2 separate regions of the Homo sapiens genome follow, and region 2 is linked to region 1. The links come from fine-mapping of genetic effects on gene expression. Tissue or cell type: prefrontal cortex. Region 1 holds a variant in brackets; the other region holds the start of a gene. All regions are shown on one strand. Distances are from middle to middle.

Region 1 (8,104 bases):
CTCACACCCTGGTTGGCTTCTGTGGTGGCCTGGACAGTCACAGGAGGGCATCAGGGCCAGCTCCCATGTGACACACATGCTCTATCTGCTGAGAAGAGGCGGGCTCTGGTCTCAGAGTCACAGCATCATGAACGTGGAGCACGGGGCATCCTCATCCCCCCCAGAGCCCCAGACGGAGTAGGGGTGCCGGCGTGAGATCTGAGCAGGCACCACTGGCACCTAAGCTCTGACCCCATGGAGCAGCTAAGGCTCCACACTGGTTTCCCGACTGCACCTGCCTGCCGGTTTCCTGACTGCACCCACCTGACAGTGAGCCCAGTGAACGGGGCTGACTCTGAGACACAGGACTGACCCCGTCGGGCCTGGTCCCCGGCACTTCAGCCCAGGGCTCTCAGAAGATGGAGCTGAGCGTCCGCCAGCTGCACTCTGTCTGTGCTCTTGCTCTGTGGCCCGGGTCACGGGCAGACCCTTCCGACTGTCCAGGCTCAGTCTCCACCACCACCCCAGGAGGCCTCCCTGGCCTCTCAGTAGTTGGACTCGGCCCCTTACTTGGTCTTGTGTCTACACTGCTGTTCCAGGGCTCATCAGTGCAGTCGGAATGACGTGGAATTAATCCTCTCTCCTGTGAGAGTCTCATCTTGAGGACAGAGCCATCCGTTACTAGCATACAGTCGGTGCTCAAAAATTGCTTGCTTAGTCCAAGCCCAGTCCTGGCAGTTTTAAGGGGCCTGTTTGAGTTACAACCGTTGGATCTGCCTTCCTTTTTCAGTATTTCAGCAGGGCCATCGTGGACCCAGAAGAACTCCATGACCTGCTGCTGGCGCGGACACTCCAGGACTCAGCCTTTGGCTTTCCATAGTGGTGACATAAGAGAAGCAGCTACGTGTGTGTTTATTCCAGATGCCAAGTGAAGCCTAGAACAGGAGTTGCATCTTGCAGGTCCCCTCAGTGGATGGGCCGGGCCCCGAGGGTGAGGGCTGCCACAGTTGACTGCCCAGCCAGGCTGTGGGACGGCTGCTCTTGTACTCTCCATGCTCTGACTCAAGGGAACCTGTGTTCCTGGTCTCGTGCCATCTACCTGGAGCTGCAGTGAACACACATCTCGAATTTTTCATCCCATGGGGTTGCATGGCTGCGGCTCACGTGTCTCATGGGCCAGGCATCAGTCACAGGCCACAGCAAGGGCTCTAGTTGACGGTCAGGTGAGCTCTCTTCTCAGTGGTTGTCAAACTCTCATGGGAAAATTATTTAATTAAATTGGTTACTTTATCCTTTTTATTTATGAAAATTAATGAAGTTTTCTTTAGTTATTAGAGAACTTGGGAGGTCACCTGACTCCCTGGAAACGGTCGATGGCTGTTTTCGATTTAGGTCCTGCATGTCCCTGGCTGGGCTGAGGGGGATCGGGGATGGCACCAGGGCACAGCCCAGCCTCCCTCCGGCTCCCTAAGCAGTTCCGAGTGGACACGAGCGTTTCATTCACTAAGTCACTCGAGCTTGAGAGAGACGCATGAGGGGCTGCACTCTGGTGAGCTTCGAATCTCCTTTTGCACACCTGGAAGGTTCTCGTGGGTGTTCTTTGTCCTCGGATCCAGAGTGTATCTGATGCCACACGCCGCACACCTGATGCCACACACCTGACGCCACACACCTGACACCACACGCCACACACTGCGCACCTGACGCCCCACATGGCACACCTGATGCGCACACGGAACACCTGCCACATGCCGCACACCTGATGCCACACGCTGCACACCTGACGCCACACACCTGACGCCCCACACGGCACACCTGACACCACACACCTGACCCCACACACGGCACACCTGATGCCACATGCTGCACACGGCACACCTGACCCCACACACGGCACACCTGACCCCACACGCGGCATGTGGTGTCTCCAGGGCCCCATGTCCCCAATCCTGTGTCTGGTGTTCACCTCGCCTCGTGGGTGGCTGCCTGTTAGCTGGTTTTGCTGTTTGTGTTTGTGTCTACCTTCTTTTTGCTCAGGCTGTGTCACTCCTAGGCTCATTTACTAGGACCTAGAGAAGTGTGCCCTCAGCCAGTGTGAGGAAAACAGGCCCAGGCTGGCACTGAGTAGCCGTTGGGAGGAGTTTTCAATGTGCTAAATCCCATGATTGGGGCCTCACGTGTGTGTCAAAACACCATGCTGTACCCCAAAATATGTGCAGTTCTTATGGGTCAATTAAAAACAAAATAAATAAGTAAATGACCAGTTTTTCTTCTAAACGGTTCAGAATAATTCATCCCAAATGTGGGTTGTTGATGCTCCCCCACCATGGCTCTCTTGGGCACCCTGGCTGGACCCTCACTGTCTCTGCATGTGAGTGGGTACGCAGGCTGTGACTTCTGTGTGAAGCCTGCGGGCCCGGTGAGTGGTGCCGTCACTGGCTGAGGGCCACAGCTGAGCCACTGGGGTAACCGCCCAATGGTTCACCTTGTCTGCTGCCTAGATAGAGCCAGTTGATCAAGACAGGGGAATTGCAATAGAGAAAGGGTAATTCACACAGAGACGGCTGTATGGGAGACTGGAGTTTTATTATGACTCCAATCAGTCTCCCCAGGAATCTGGGGGTGGGAGTTTTTAAGGATAATTTGGTGGGTGGGTGGAGTCAGTGAATCACGAGTTCTGATTGGTCAGGTCAGAGGTGAAATCATCAGGAGTCAAAGCTGTCCTCTTGTGCTGAGTGAGTTCCTGGGTGGGGGCCGCACGACCAGCTGAACCAGTTTATTGATCGGGTGGGGTACCAGCTGATCCATTCAGTGCAGGGTATGCAAAATATCTCAAGCACTGATCTTAGGTTTTACAATAGTGATGTTATCCCCAGGAGCAATTTTGGGTAGGGGTGGGGGAGGTGGTCAGAATCTTGTAGCCTCCAGCTACATTACTCCTAAACCATAATTTCTAATCTTTGAGCTAATTTGTAGGTCCTACAAAGGCAGTCTGGTCCCCAGGCAAGAAGGGGATTTGTTTTGGGAAAGGGTTGTTACCATCTTTGTTTCAAAGCTAAACTATAAGTTCCTCCCCAAGTTAGTTTGGCCTCAGCCCAGGAATGAAAAGGACGGCTTGGAGGTTAGAAGCAAGATAGAGCTGGTTAGGTCAGGTTTCTTTCACTGTCTCAGTTGTAATTTTGCAATGGCTGTTTCACCGGGACGCTTCTCCCGTGTCGAAACACTGCAGTGCTCTCCTGAGGAGGGACACAGTAAAAATATCACTTCTTTGAAAAGTTTCCTGTTTTTATAGCTCTGGTAAAAATAATGAATAATAGATTTTATGTTAAACTTCGTTTTCAGTCATTTCTTCATCTCTTTGTGGAGATTGTTTTATTCATATTGTTTTCCAAGTGGTTCTGTTTTTTTCTATAAACATTCAGTGAAATGGCCATGGAGAGTAAAGTGTTAACAGTCTGACTTTGGGCTGAACTCTTAATTCAATACCTGTTCCTAATAGCAGTTAAATATACCACTGCTCATTTCCTCCCACCTTAAATTTGGTTTGTATGTGCGTGTGTGTGAACCCTGAACATCTGAGGCAGGTTTCAGTGAAACTGGAAAGTTTATTTTGCCCAGGTTGGGGATGGGTGCCGTGACACAGCCTCAGGAGGTCCTGACGACATTTGCCCGAGGTGGTCAGAACACAGTTTGATTTCACACGTTCTAGGGAGACATGAGACATCAGTCAACATACATAAGATGAACATTGCTTCGGTCTGGAAAGGTGGGACAACTCGAAGCAAAGGCAGGAAGACACAAATCAGGGAGGGGACCTTCAGGTCCTGGGTACATAAGGGACAAATGGTTGCATTCTTTTGAGTTTCTGATGAGTCTTTCCAAAGGGGGCAGTCAGATCTGCATTTATCTCAGTGAGCAGAGGGGTGACTTTGAATAGAATGGGAGGCAGGTTGGCCCTAAGCAGTTCCTAGCTTGACTTTTTCCCTTTAGCTTGGTGATTTGGGGGCCCAGAGATTTATTTTCCTTTCACAGTGTGTATATGTGTGCAAGTATATGTGCCTGTGTGTGAATGCCTGAGTGTGTTCATATGTATATGCGTGAATATGTGTGTATATGCGTGAATACGTGTGTATATGTATGAATGCATGTGTGGGTATGTATATGCATGCATGCATGTGTGTGCGTCTGTATATATGTGTGCGTGTGTGTGTGTATGTATATGTGTGAATGTGTATATGCGTGAATGCATGTGTGGGTATGTATATGCATGTGTGGGTATGTATATGCGTGAATGAATGTGTGGGTATGTATATGCATGTGTGGGTATGTATATGCGTGAATGCATGTGTGGGTATGTATATGCGTGCGTGCATGTGTATGTATATGCATGAATGCGTGTGTGTATGTATATGCGTGCGTGTGTGTGTATGTATATGTGTGAATGCATGTGTGGGTATGTATATGTGTGCATGCACATGTGCATATGTATATGTGTGTGTGCATGTGTGCATATGTATATGTGTGAATGCGCGTGTGTGTATGTATAGGCATGTGTGCATGTGTGTGCGTATGTCTACATGCATGCATGTGTGCGTATGTCTACATGCATGTGTGTGCGTATGTATATGTGTGAATGCGTGTGTGGGTATGTATATGCGTG[C/T]GTGCATGTGTGTGTGTGTGTGTATGCATGAATGTATGTGTGGGTATGTATATGCCTGTGTGCATGTGTGTGTATATGCATATGCGAGCGTGCATGGGTGTATGTATGTATATGTGCATGCATGTGTATGCATATGTATATGTGCTTTTAATTATAGTATTCATTAAAGTGCCTATTAATTAATTCATTTAAAATATCTATTAGCTGCTGCTGTGCACTTGGCAGTGTTCTGTGAATGAAGAGTTAGATGAAGTGAGGGCAAAGTCCTTGTGCTCAAGAATTGTATTTTCTTACATAGGAACACGTGTATTACACAAGGTCAGGTGCTCTGTGCTGACCAGGTAACTAGAGCAGCAGGTTCATGACACAGGGAAGGGTGCCAGGTCTATGTCTGGAGGAGCAGAGTGCAGGAGGAGCAGGTCTATGTCTATGTCTGGAGGAGCAGAGTACAGGAGGTGGACTGTGTGGTGAAGCCGGTGGAGGGGTGGACCTCGAGCCCCTTGTTAAATCAAAATATCTAAGACAGGTCTCGGTCAGTTTAGAAAGTTTATTTCACCAAGGTTAAGGATGCACCCATGACATAGCATCAGGAGTTCCTGACGATGGTGGTCGGGGCACCGCTTGGTTTTATACATTTTAGGGAGACATGAGATATCAATCAATATGTGTACCATGTACTTTGGTTCAGTCAGGTAAAGTGGGATTTGAGGCGAGGGCTTCCAGGTCATGAGTAGATAAGAGGCAAAAGGTTACATTCTTTTGAGTCCTTGATCAGCTTTCCACTGAATACACAATTTAGTCTAGCTCAGTGAATCATCATTTTTACATAAACAATAGGGGAGAGGAAGCAATGAGATACGCATTTGTTTCAGGGAAGCCTCGGAGGGATGTCTTTGAGTTCTGACTGTCCTTTGTCCACAAGGAATTTCCTTGTGGGCAAATTGTGAGGGAGGTCTGTAGCTTCTTATCTTTGTAGCTATCTTACTTAGGAATAGAATGGGAGGCAGGTTTTGCCTGAGGCAGTTCCCAGCTTGACTTTACCCTTGGCTTAGTGATTTGGGGGTCCCAAGATTCATTTTCTTGTCACATTCCTGATGGACATCTGGACAAGCTGGCTCCCTGAGACAGCATCCCTGCAGGTAAGGTGTGTCCTAAAGGGGTGAGGACTAGGCTCTGATTAAGGGGTCTGAGGAGTCATGCTTTAAAAACCATCAATTCTCGTCAGATGGGTTTTATTTAACCTTATGTATCATGACTTATTTTCCAACCTGGCTCTGGCATAACATTACAAGACAAGGAAGAAAATAAAAATATTTCACTCCAAAACATGTGTCTTTGCCATATGTCGAAATGGCCCTGCAAAGCTGTCCTTTGTGTGGGAAAACCAGTTCAGTCACATTAGTCATGCATCTGTGAAGAATCTCTATTAACATGGCTAGATCTCTTTCTTCCAGGCCCTCCCAATCCTAAACAGATTAAGAGTCTAGCACCTTTTAAAGATCTGAACAGGAAACATTTGTCACCTGTTGTCTCCAAGGGCAGCCACTAATGAGGCTTCAAAAGAACCTTGGTCTCCACAGTCTTTTATCTTAAACTGAACATTTCCTTTCTATTGATCCCAGGTCTTCAGAGAAACTCAACCAATTGTCAACCAGAAAATGTTTACTTTTACCTAGAGCCTGGAAGCCCCCACTTTGAGTTTTCCTGCCTTTCCCAGGTGGGAAACCAGTGTATTTCTGAAATGTCTTTGATTGATGTCTCATGCGTCCCTAAAATGTATAAAACCAAGCTGCACCTGACCACTTTGGGCACATGTTCTGAGGACCTCCTGAGGGCTGTGTCACGGGCCGTGGTCACTCATATTTGGCCCAGAATAAATTTCTTCCAATATTTTACAGAGTTTTACTCTTTCTGTCGACAAGAGGCGCATAGGATATTTCATTCCAAGTGCTGTGGTGAAGACTGTTTTTACAAGTTGGCCTTGTGAAGAGCCATTGTTGTGTAGATGTGCCTCGCTTTGTTCCTGGAATGACATGGTGACCGTCTAATTTCCCAATTCAAGGAGAGTTCCTCTCTTTTAAAATCTTAGCTTTTTGTTAAGAGGTTTAGTGTCTTTGCTTTAGGAAACTGCTTAAAATGTCTACATTTTTCAACAGCTTGAGCAATGACTATACAGTAGCCTGAATCCTGTCAAATCTATGTGGTCTTTCAGTAGGGATTGTAATATTTTGTGAATCATTGTGGTGTACTCTTGGATGAGAGGTGTTATATTAAGAAAAATAGTTCTGAGGTTTTTTATGGGAAAATTACGGGTTTTACTTCCTGAAAATAAACATCTGAATGGTATTTGATGGAATGAAAGGGAAAGAGTGTAAGGTTACAGAGGTTTACACTATTTTTTAATAGCTTTTTTAAAAAAACTTATCTTACATTTTTGTTCAGTTGCACAATGTACATCAAACTAACCATAGCCATGTGGGGGCTGCTACTCACAAACTGTCATCCTACAAGTCCAAATACAGGAGAAGCAGAAATTATCATTGGCCCAAATGCTGTATTTCCAGTAACATATAAAACAGGGCATTTCTAATTTCTTCTAAGCTTAGTAACCACCTCAGCCACATTAGTCATGCATCAATAATGTTTTTTTTTTTTTTTTTTTTTTGCAGTCATCCAAGTGCACCACCATTAACATGATCTCTTCTGAGAATTACTCCTATAGTTATCTTAATTCTGTTGGACAAATGGAATTTTAAATTCATTTTAGTATTGTATTAACAAGAGTGCCAGATGCATCAAAAAGTGATGGTCATATTTTCCTATTTTATGTGTTATATTATTAAATGGCTCATTTAAAAAATGAAAATGCATACGTGTTTTATGATTTATTGATATCCTTAAAGTCCTAGCAGGTGTAGATACTTTATATATTTTTAAAACTTGATAGGATACTACTCTTTGCCTGCCTCTGAATAAAATATGTACTATTTTGTGATATAAATACATAATACTAGACAGCTAATTTTAATTAAAAACAATGTGTAAAAGTTTAAACAGCTTTTTTAATGAAATAATTTTATTACATATGATTCTAGATTTCAGGAATAGTCACTTATGTTATTTTGCTTTATTAGTTTTAGATCTTGCTGTATTTTTAAAAAGGAAATGAAATGATTATTGATGCAGAGAAAACCCTACCCACATCCCTCCCTTTTCTTCTTCTCTGATAACCACTGCTGAATTTGGTATGGGTCTTTCCCTAGTACCCATTCAGAAGCAATGATACAGGAGTTAAGAAGAAATTACTTAGGCAGATAATGAAGGTATGGGAATCCTCCCTAAGGTTTTCCTTTTAATGAAGAACAGCCCCCAAATCATTTTCTTTTCTAACGAAGAGCAGGCTGTAAAATCGAGCTGCAGAGTTAGACAAACAAGTTGGAAGCTTGTAAACGCGAATACTGGCAG
Region 2 (8,104 bases), 80 kb before region 1:
TTGACATTGTATTTAGTCTTTCCTTCCATTCATTAAACAAATCTTACTGTGCATGTAGGGAGTATAGAATGCTACATTTAATCTTACGAGATCATGCTGTTTACCAAATTTTATGATGAAATTAATGCTTTCTTCAGTAGGCAGTCTTACATTGTAGGCAGACTCCTGTCAAGTTTTGTCTTTCAAAATGGTCCTCATTAGCAAGTTACCAAAAGTAAAAATAGGGCAATAAAGTAACAGAATTCCTTTTAAACCCATAGTAAGCTCTTCTGGCATGAATTTATAGCCCTCTTCTACCCTTCCAGCCAAAGGTCATTCCAAATGCTATATGTGGAATTTGTCTGAAGGGTAAGGAGTCCAACAAGAAAGGAAAGGCTGAATCACTTATACACTGCTCCCAATGTGAGAATAGTGGTAAGTATTGAAATGTCTTTTTAAAATTTTAACCACCGTATTTATTGGTTCAAAAACTAGAATTTATAGTTTCAGGCAGATTTCAACCAAAGAGTCACCAAATTAAATACACAGGGTAGCTTGTGAGGCATAGACACAGCCCATGTGTTTTCCTCTACATTGTATATTCATTTCTCTTTGGCGATTTGACATTATAGCCATTCTCTGGAAGTCCTAAAGCAAACTAGTATTTTATGTGCCATATTAAGTTAAAATTTCTTATGTGAGATACCACTAATACTGGTTTTGATTTAGGCCATCCTTCTTGCCTGGATATGACAATGGAGCTTGTTTCTATGATTAAGACCTACCCATGGCAGTGTATGGAATGTAAAACATGCATTATATGTGGACAACCCCACCATGAAGAAGAAATGATGTTCTGTGATATGTGTGACAGAGGTTATCATACTTTTTGTGTGGGCCTTGGTGCTATTCCATCAGGTAAAGATTAAAAAAAGAGCAAACATTATCTTTGGGTGATGAGACTCTCCCAGCACTCCAAAAGGCTGCATAAACGCTATCATGACATGAAGAGCTTGTGGACTCTTATGTGCAAATATGACCAAAGCTGTGATTATACAGGTCATGTCCACCAGCTTTTCATCCCTAGACAATTCCAACTAAAGGATAAGTGAAAGGCCAGAATGCCCCTGCTAAGTTTTGGAAGTATAGTTCTATAGAATGAGCTGGTGTTTTTCTACTGAAATACTAAAGTAACAAAGCCTTTATTTTTATATGTTATCTATTTAGAAACAACAAAATGACTGCTACGTCTTTATACATTTCTATAGAAATCTATTATAGATTTCTGTAAATTGAGGCAGCATGACAATTCCAGATAACTTTAGAACAGAGTTGAATAAATCACAGTAATTGGACTAAAACATTACACAGATAATTGTGTAATTTTAGAACTTACTTGCATAGTTAACACTGTATAATACTCTTATAAAATATATGCCTACAACGAAGTTTCCTGGGAATCATTAAGCAAGCAACATAATTATTTTTCTGTAGTAATTCAGATCAAGTATGTAGTACAAGTTATCATTGTGCTGTTAAAGTTTTAAAGTGCTGTCAGCAGAGTACACCAGGACTTGAAAGAATGCTGTTAAGACACACAGCTGCCAGTGAGCAGGAGAGAAAAAGTCTTAAAAAAGCCAAATTCCGGAATGGGTTTTGACCTTTTGAAGTATGATAGTGTTTGAATTTCAGGAAAGATTGTACTTTCTTAAAGGTCCGTATCACCGTATGGCATTGCATCTCTCCCATCCCCCTTGACTTGCAATGAATTTTGCATGGCATTGATTACATTGATTAAGTTTACATTTTTTCCTTAAATTAAGGAACTCATAGTGCCCTTCTCACCACAAAATCCAGAGAGGAATATCATTAGTGATAGCTAAGGCAGAAGAGTTTAGATGGGCTTAAAATTCAGTCCTGTAAAGATAATTTTTCATTCTATATTAACAATTTTTTTCCTAGGTCGCTGGATTTGTGACTGTTGTCAGCGGGCCCCCCCAACACCCAGGAAAGTGGGCAGAAGGGGGAAAAACAGCAAAGAGGGATAAAATAGTTTTTGACTCTAATACTGTATATGCATTTAAGTGGAATATTTGGTGCCATTTACAACATTATTTTCATGCCAATAAAAGATTTTTTTTGCAAATTATGAGCTTAAAATCTGCAGTTATTTCTGTTAAAAGCTACGCTTACTCTCGAAACTAACTCCAGGTAGAGAATTCATCTTCCAAAGTATTTTATAGTAACCTTGGCTCACTCCAAAAATTCAGTGGAAATGTTTAGTAACTTAAGATACTTAACTGTTTCTCCATAGCCCCAAAAGTTAATTTTCATGAAACTTCCTAATCTACATTGTTTCCGGCCTACCATAGGTAGCACTGACAAAGTTATTTAATAACTGAAGAATTTTCATAGGTATGACAAATGGCCCACTAAGATTTGGTGCAGCTGGATTTAGAGTTGTCATTATTGGACTGGTACAGGAACAAACTTTGTAAATACCTGCCTGCCAGGAAATCCTTTTTGTATAGAAAAGTACCATCACCTACTTGGGGTACAGGCATGAGGCTTTAGTCCAGGCTCAGGGAAGTGTACGTAAATCATTTCCAACTTGATTTTAGTAACTCTTGAAAACTTACACCAACTTCGGTTAGAATCTCCAGAGTAAAATTACAAAGTTATCAACCTTTTGATTTGTGTCACAGCATGAAAGGTTGCTCTATTTTATATAAACCTGTTACTGCAATCATTTTTAGTCAACCTGCCTAATGAAAATGGAGTCTAAACACTTTGTGCACAGTCCTTTTATAGGAATTATGATCTTTAAAATACTGTGCTTGCTGCTTTTCCTATTTTTGGGGTAACTGAGGTAACAAAACTGCGTATGGCTTTATTTTTCCATCCCTTGACTAAAGGTACCTAGAACTTCAACCAAGTACAAGTAGCAAGGTTCACAGCAAACTGCAATCAGCTTCACAGATGGAGGGTTTTATATCCCAGAGTGTGGTCAACGACTCAAAAGAGAATTTCAAGTACCAGTTTCAAAATGCTAATTAATATCGTCCAGAGAACAGATTCCTCCTCTTGCGAGGCGTCTTCCGGGGCACCAGCGTGCTTCTGGCCGGCATCTGCGCCGTCGGCGGGGTAGGCGGCCTCGCCGAACGGGTGCTGCTCGACCGTGCCGTCGTAGTACACCTTCATCTCGAACTCGCTCTCCAGGTGGGAGGGGTGTCCATAGACGCCGATGCCCACTGGGCGCCGGAAGTGCGCGGGGATGGACACGGCGTCCGGGCCGCAGGTGGCCGATTGCAGCTCGTAGTCGTCGAAGCTGGGGTGCAGGCTGCTGGCGGAGACGTACAGATCCGCATCTCCCTTGAGGCTGCGCATCCTGAGGACTATCTTGCCCTCGTGGTTCAGCCGCAGGTAGCTGTAGTTCCCGGCGCCTATCTGGCCCTGGACGACGTGCAGGAGCACCCACTCCTCGGGGACCTCCTCCTCGTCCGCGCAGCTTCCCGGAGACAGGACCTGCGAGGCTAGGAGCAGCAGCAGGGCCGTCGTCCAGGGCGCGGCCCTCCCGCGGGGAGCGGCCATGGCTGGCGGCTCAGCTCCGGGGCCTGCAAGTGGGTCAGTGCTGCTGGGGACACCGGAGGCGCTCAGCACCGGAGCCTGTCCCCGCCGTCCGCACGCGGGTCCACGGCGCGTCCAGGCGCCTGGTCTGTCGCTGGGACTGTCCCTTCCCACCCGCGTGAGGCCCCGGGGAGGAGGGGTGGGTTAACCCCTCCCCCGTAGCGCGGCGCCCACTCAGGGCAGGGGCAGGGGCAGGGGCAGGGCCGCTGTGGCACCCTCGGACTCACCACCACTCCCCGCAGGGGGCCGCGCTTTATACATCCGGACCCGAGGCCGGAGCCTCGCCGGAGGCGGAAGTGACGCTAGGTCCGTAAGTGAGCCGGCCGGAAGCGAGGCTTCTCCAGCTGTCGCGAGATAGCGAAAGGGGCGTGGGCGCGAGGGGCGGCGGGCTAGTAACCATAGCGGCTCGCGTGGGTCGGCTGGCAAGTAACCATAGCGGCGAGCGTGGGGCGGAGTGTGGCTCGGTAGTCCTCTGCGTGCCCTCCTGGGAGCTGGGTGCTGTGAGTCCTCCCCTAGCGGGCTGGTCTCGGCGCGGAGTCGGCGCCGAACCCGAGCTGCTGCTCTGGGGCGTGTGCCTAGGGCGCAGGGCTGGAGCGCGGGGGCTGCGCGGTTGCTCGCGGCTCCGCTGAGGTCTCTAGGAAAGGGGGCGATTTGAGGGTTCCGCCGTGACCGCTTCCAACGGCGGACACGCGCGCTCTGGACCAGAGCCGTTGCCCGCTGTCTCGTCACCCGAAGCCTCCTCCTGACGCCGTGCTAGTGCGAGGGTCTCCAGGGGAATTCGGGGCACAAGTCGGGCCGGAGCATCCGGGCGGCCGCTTGAGATCGGCGCTTTGAGAACTGAGCGCATGTGGAGTTCGGAGGAAAAGGGCTCAGGTGGTTATTTTAATTAAAGCAGCTGTGTATAAGGAGCACTCAGATCTCTTTAAAAGATTCAGTAGTTTAGGAACGAACCAGGGCTGTAGAAATGCCCGGCCTCCTGCACCTCCCGTCGGTTCTGAGCTCCGAGGGCGGGAGCGTGGACCCTGAGGGCTCGTTAATTATGCCCCACTGGCCTTTCAACCTGCGTGGTAACTACCAGGCTAGGTTTTCCTAACTCGAGCCAAACAGCAAGTTTCTGACTTGATTATCACTAAAAGAGAAAAATTTCGATCTTTTCTAATCAGAAGGGAGTAATTTTCTCTTTTTAAAAATATTCGTATGTACATTAAAAAAACGGAAATGCACAGGATTTTATCAGTGGTACTCCTCGAGTAGTAGAGTTTTCATCTTTTTATGTATTTCTAAATTTTCTACAATTTACACACACTGCTCTGTACCAGTAAAGGAGTATTAACTCTACAGCTTCCAGTTTATCTGGGATTACTATCTTGTGTTTACTGACTTAACTTTAAGACTATGGTATCTTTAGCAATCACTTGTCACTGCCTTTTCCTGAAGTGCTTACCTAGTGTTAGGTGCACTAGAATCTCACTAAAATAATAAATTTAGTTTATTTTCCCTGACTTGTTCTGTGCATGTATGTACATGGATATTCCTGGGGATATCCTGTGACATTGATTATCCCCTAGGGTTGGCACAGCAGGGAGAGGAGGTAGGGATAAAAAACTTTATTATTTCTGCATTGTTTAAATGTTTTGTATTGTATTGCTTTTGTAATTCAAAAAAATGTTAAACAATTTATATTAGTGGAGGTAGGTTAAGTGCTGTAGCAATTCACCCCAATAGAACAGTTGCATGTTTCTTGCTCACACAGTCCTGTGTAGCGGTTTCTAGTCAGACGATTCCTTTGGGCAGCTCTCTGCAAGCTGCAGCCTAAAATTCTTCCATGTTGTGGTTTTTTTCCTTAGGCCCTCTGAATTCTCCGCATTTAGCCAGTGGGTGGGGAAAGAAGAGAGGCAGTGCAGGAGGAATTTATGGGCCAGGCACTCAACGACTACATGGCTGCACTTAATTGCAAGGGAAGCTAGGGAGTGTAGTTTAGTTCTGTGTCTAGAAGGAAAGGGAAGTGGCTTAGTGGAAAAGGAACAGCACTTACCGTAGTCTCTCTTCTGGTGACCAGATCTCTGCTCCACTCTTGATCCCACATGGAGAACACACTCTCCCCACCCCAAGGGGGACACTTTGTCAAGGTGCCTAGTGCAACACAGAACATTTCTCAGGATTGCACAGTTCTCTCCATCAGGCCTGGCTGTGGTTCCTCGTGGTCCAGAGCCCTATGGACTAAGAAGACAAACTAGTTGCTCTCCCCACTAAAATGCAGTGGTTAAATATGACCATGGTTTTTGTAACCATCTCCCTTTTGGAAAAGGGAGACACATGGCAGACACTGGTCTATAGCAGTTTTGAAGTGATGCTGGGGTGGAGGTGGGAGGAATTTCCCAACTAGACCCTGATTCTGCTATCTGGGAGGAATTCCCTTGTCCATTGTTCTTTTTCTTTCCTTTGAGACAGGATGTCACTGTTGTCCAGGTTGAAGTAGAGTGGCACAATCACAGCTCACTATAGCTTCAACCTCCGTGGCTCAAACGATCCTCCCACCTCAGCCTCCCCAGCAGCTGGGGCTACAAGCATGCACTGCCACACCTGACTACTTTTTTTTTTTAAAGTAGAGACAGGGTCTCACTATGTTGCCCAGGCTGGTCTTGAACTCCTGGGCTCAAGTGATCCTTCTGCCTCGGCCCCACAAAGTGCTGGGATTGCAGATGTGAGCCACTGTGCCTGGCTTGTTTGCTGAGGCCCTTGATTCTACCCTTAGTCCTTTTCCTCCACGGTCTCATCTGATGTGGCTATGAGGATGCTGTCTTGGAAGGCTGCCATAGCTCACTCCTGGAGCATGGCAGTGGGGACCAGGCAGTCAGCCCTGAGCCCACCGTGTGCCCTTACTCTGTTCTTTGCTTGATACTTCTTAGGCTTCATCGTGTCCTCACGAGCACAGCAGCTTCTGGTCTGTGTGTATCTCGTCAGCTCTGTGTGCTGGTGATGCCATTGTCGTTCTTCCTGTGTCTACTGTTCAAGCCTGACTTTATTTTCTTTTGGTCTCCTGGGCAGCTGATACCCTGAGGTTATGTGGAACAAAGGCTTGAGTGGGAAGGTAGCCATCCTAGGTCAGATCTTTGCTGAAGGGCCAAGACCTGATGGTCCTTTGTCCCTCCCTGCAGCCTCTCAGGGCACTCAGGTTTCCCAGTGCTGCAGCCCCTGCTCTTCGTACTTTCTTTTCGTGTCCATTCCGCTTGCACACCAGCCAGTTCTCTAGTCCAATTCCGTGTGTTGGCTGCTAATGCGTATTCTTTGCAATAATTTCCTGTAGGGCTGCAGGAGAGTAAGCCTGTGGTAAGTTTTCTGCGTTATTACAGGTTGTTGCAGTTGAACCTGTTTGTCACTGCCTAACGTGAGTCTTGAGCTTTTCCCCTCCTGAATTTGTTTCTGTGCCCCATCACTCAGTCACTCAGCAACATCCTACAGTGTCACTGAAGCATCCTGCTTCAAGGTACCCACATCAGTCAAGGTAGGCTGACAGAAGTGACCTCAGCTTCATGCACTAAATGTTTCTCTCTTGCTTACACAACAGTCCAGCCTGGTGTCCTGATCACCCTTTAGTGGGAGCAGCACAGGCTGCCAGGTGCCACCACCGTGGCCCCTCTCCTCAGCCTTTGGAGCCCTCCGCCTCCAGCATGAAGGGCTGTGCACGGGCTGTGACAGGACCAAGCCTGTGCATGCATGGTGTGCTTTCCAGACCAGAAATTGGTGCACGGCTGCCCTCGACTTCAGAGGCTGGAAATGTGGTCCAGCCATGTTCTTAGTGGCTCCAGGGAAGAAGCAGAAAGAGCTTGGGGAAAACTGCCAGACCACAGAAATAGAAAAATGAATATTTTAACATATAGAAAAATAACTTTTTACACAAATGATTTTAGGGGCCATCTGACCTCTGTTCAATGGGAGGATAGGTTGCACTTCAGTTAGCTGCCCTGGACTCATGTTCTCGACGTGGACACGTGTGTGTATGTGTGTGTGTGTGTCGGTGTGTCCCTGACGATGTTTCTGCCTGCACCAGACCCTCCCTCATCCCTGTCTGTACCACCCTGCCATGGAGCAGGAGAGGCAGGAGAGGTAGGCATTAAAGCCGAGTACACTGAGGCAGAGGTAGGCATTGAAGCCGAATACACTGAGGCAGAGGTAGGCATTGAAGCTGAGAACACTGAGGAACAGAGGTGTTGGGCAGCTGGAGAGGTGGGACATCAGCTCGTGCACACTGGGGCCAGACTGACCCAGAAATTCTGAGTGCAGGCTGGTGCTTCCTCGTCAAGGTGGCTTATGTGTCCTGACAAGGCTTCCTTCCCTCCTTGGCTTCACACCATTGTTTCTGTGAACTCTTCATACTAGTGAGTCATGGTGTTATTTCTTTACTATGCACTCATCAGGAAATGCAAGCACATTCATATTCTGCCTGTAGGGACCAGCCCGCAGGGTCAGTGGGTCTCTCCCCGTGCGCGGGGACGAG

What was found. PIP is the estimated chance that this variant, and not a neighbour inherited with it, causes the effect.
Region 2: it holds the start of WDR27, and the variant in region 1 is fine-mapped to the expression of WDR27 in prefrontal cortex (CommonMind, PIP 0.91).

What each region holds. Positions count from the first base shown.
Region 1 is chr6:169,617,828-169,625,931 of GRCh38, reverse strand. All of the region lies in intron 21 of WDR27 (WD repeat domain 27), which reads left to right. Among named protein-coding and RNA genes, the nearest start is that of WDR27, 80 kb to the left of the region's middle. RefSeq lists enhancers at 1,274-1,773, 5,709-6,353, 6,354-6,998. The variant C/T (reference allele first, on the strand shown) is at 4,640.
Region 2 is chr6:169,697,926-169,706,029 of GRCh38, reverse strand. It overlaps WDR27 (WD repeat domain 27), which reads left to right and starts at 4,001. Exons shown (of 26, transcript NM_182552.5): 1 at 4,001-4,479. C6orf120 (chromosome 6 open reading frame 120) reads right to left here and starts at 3,904. Exons shown (of 1, transcript NM_001029863.3): 1 at 1-3,904. The coding sequence starts at 3,570. The coding sequence ends at 2,995. It overlaps PHF10 (PHD finger protein 10), which reads left to right. Exons shown (of 12, transcript NM_018288.4): 10 at 306-414; 11 at 709-897; 12 at 1,942-2,128. The coding sequence ends at 2,027. RefSeq lists a silencer at 3,538-3,907 and enhancers at 3,958-4,047, 4,368-4,447.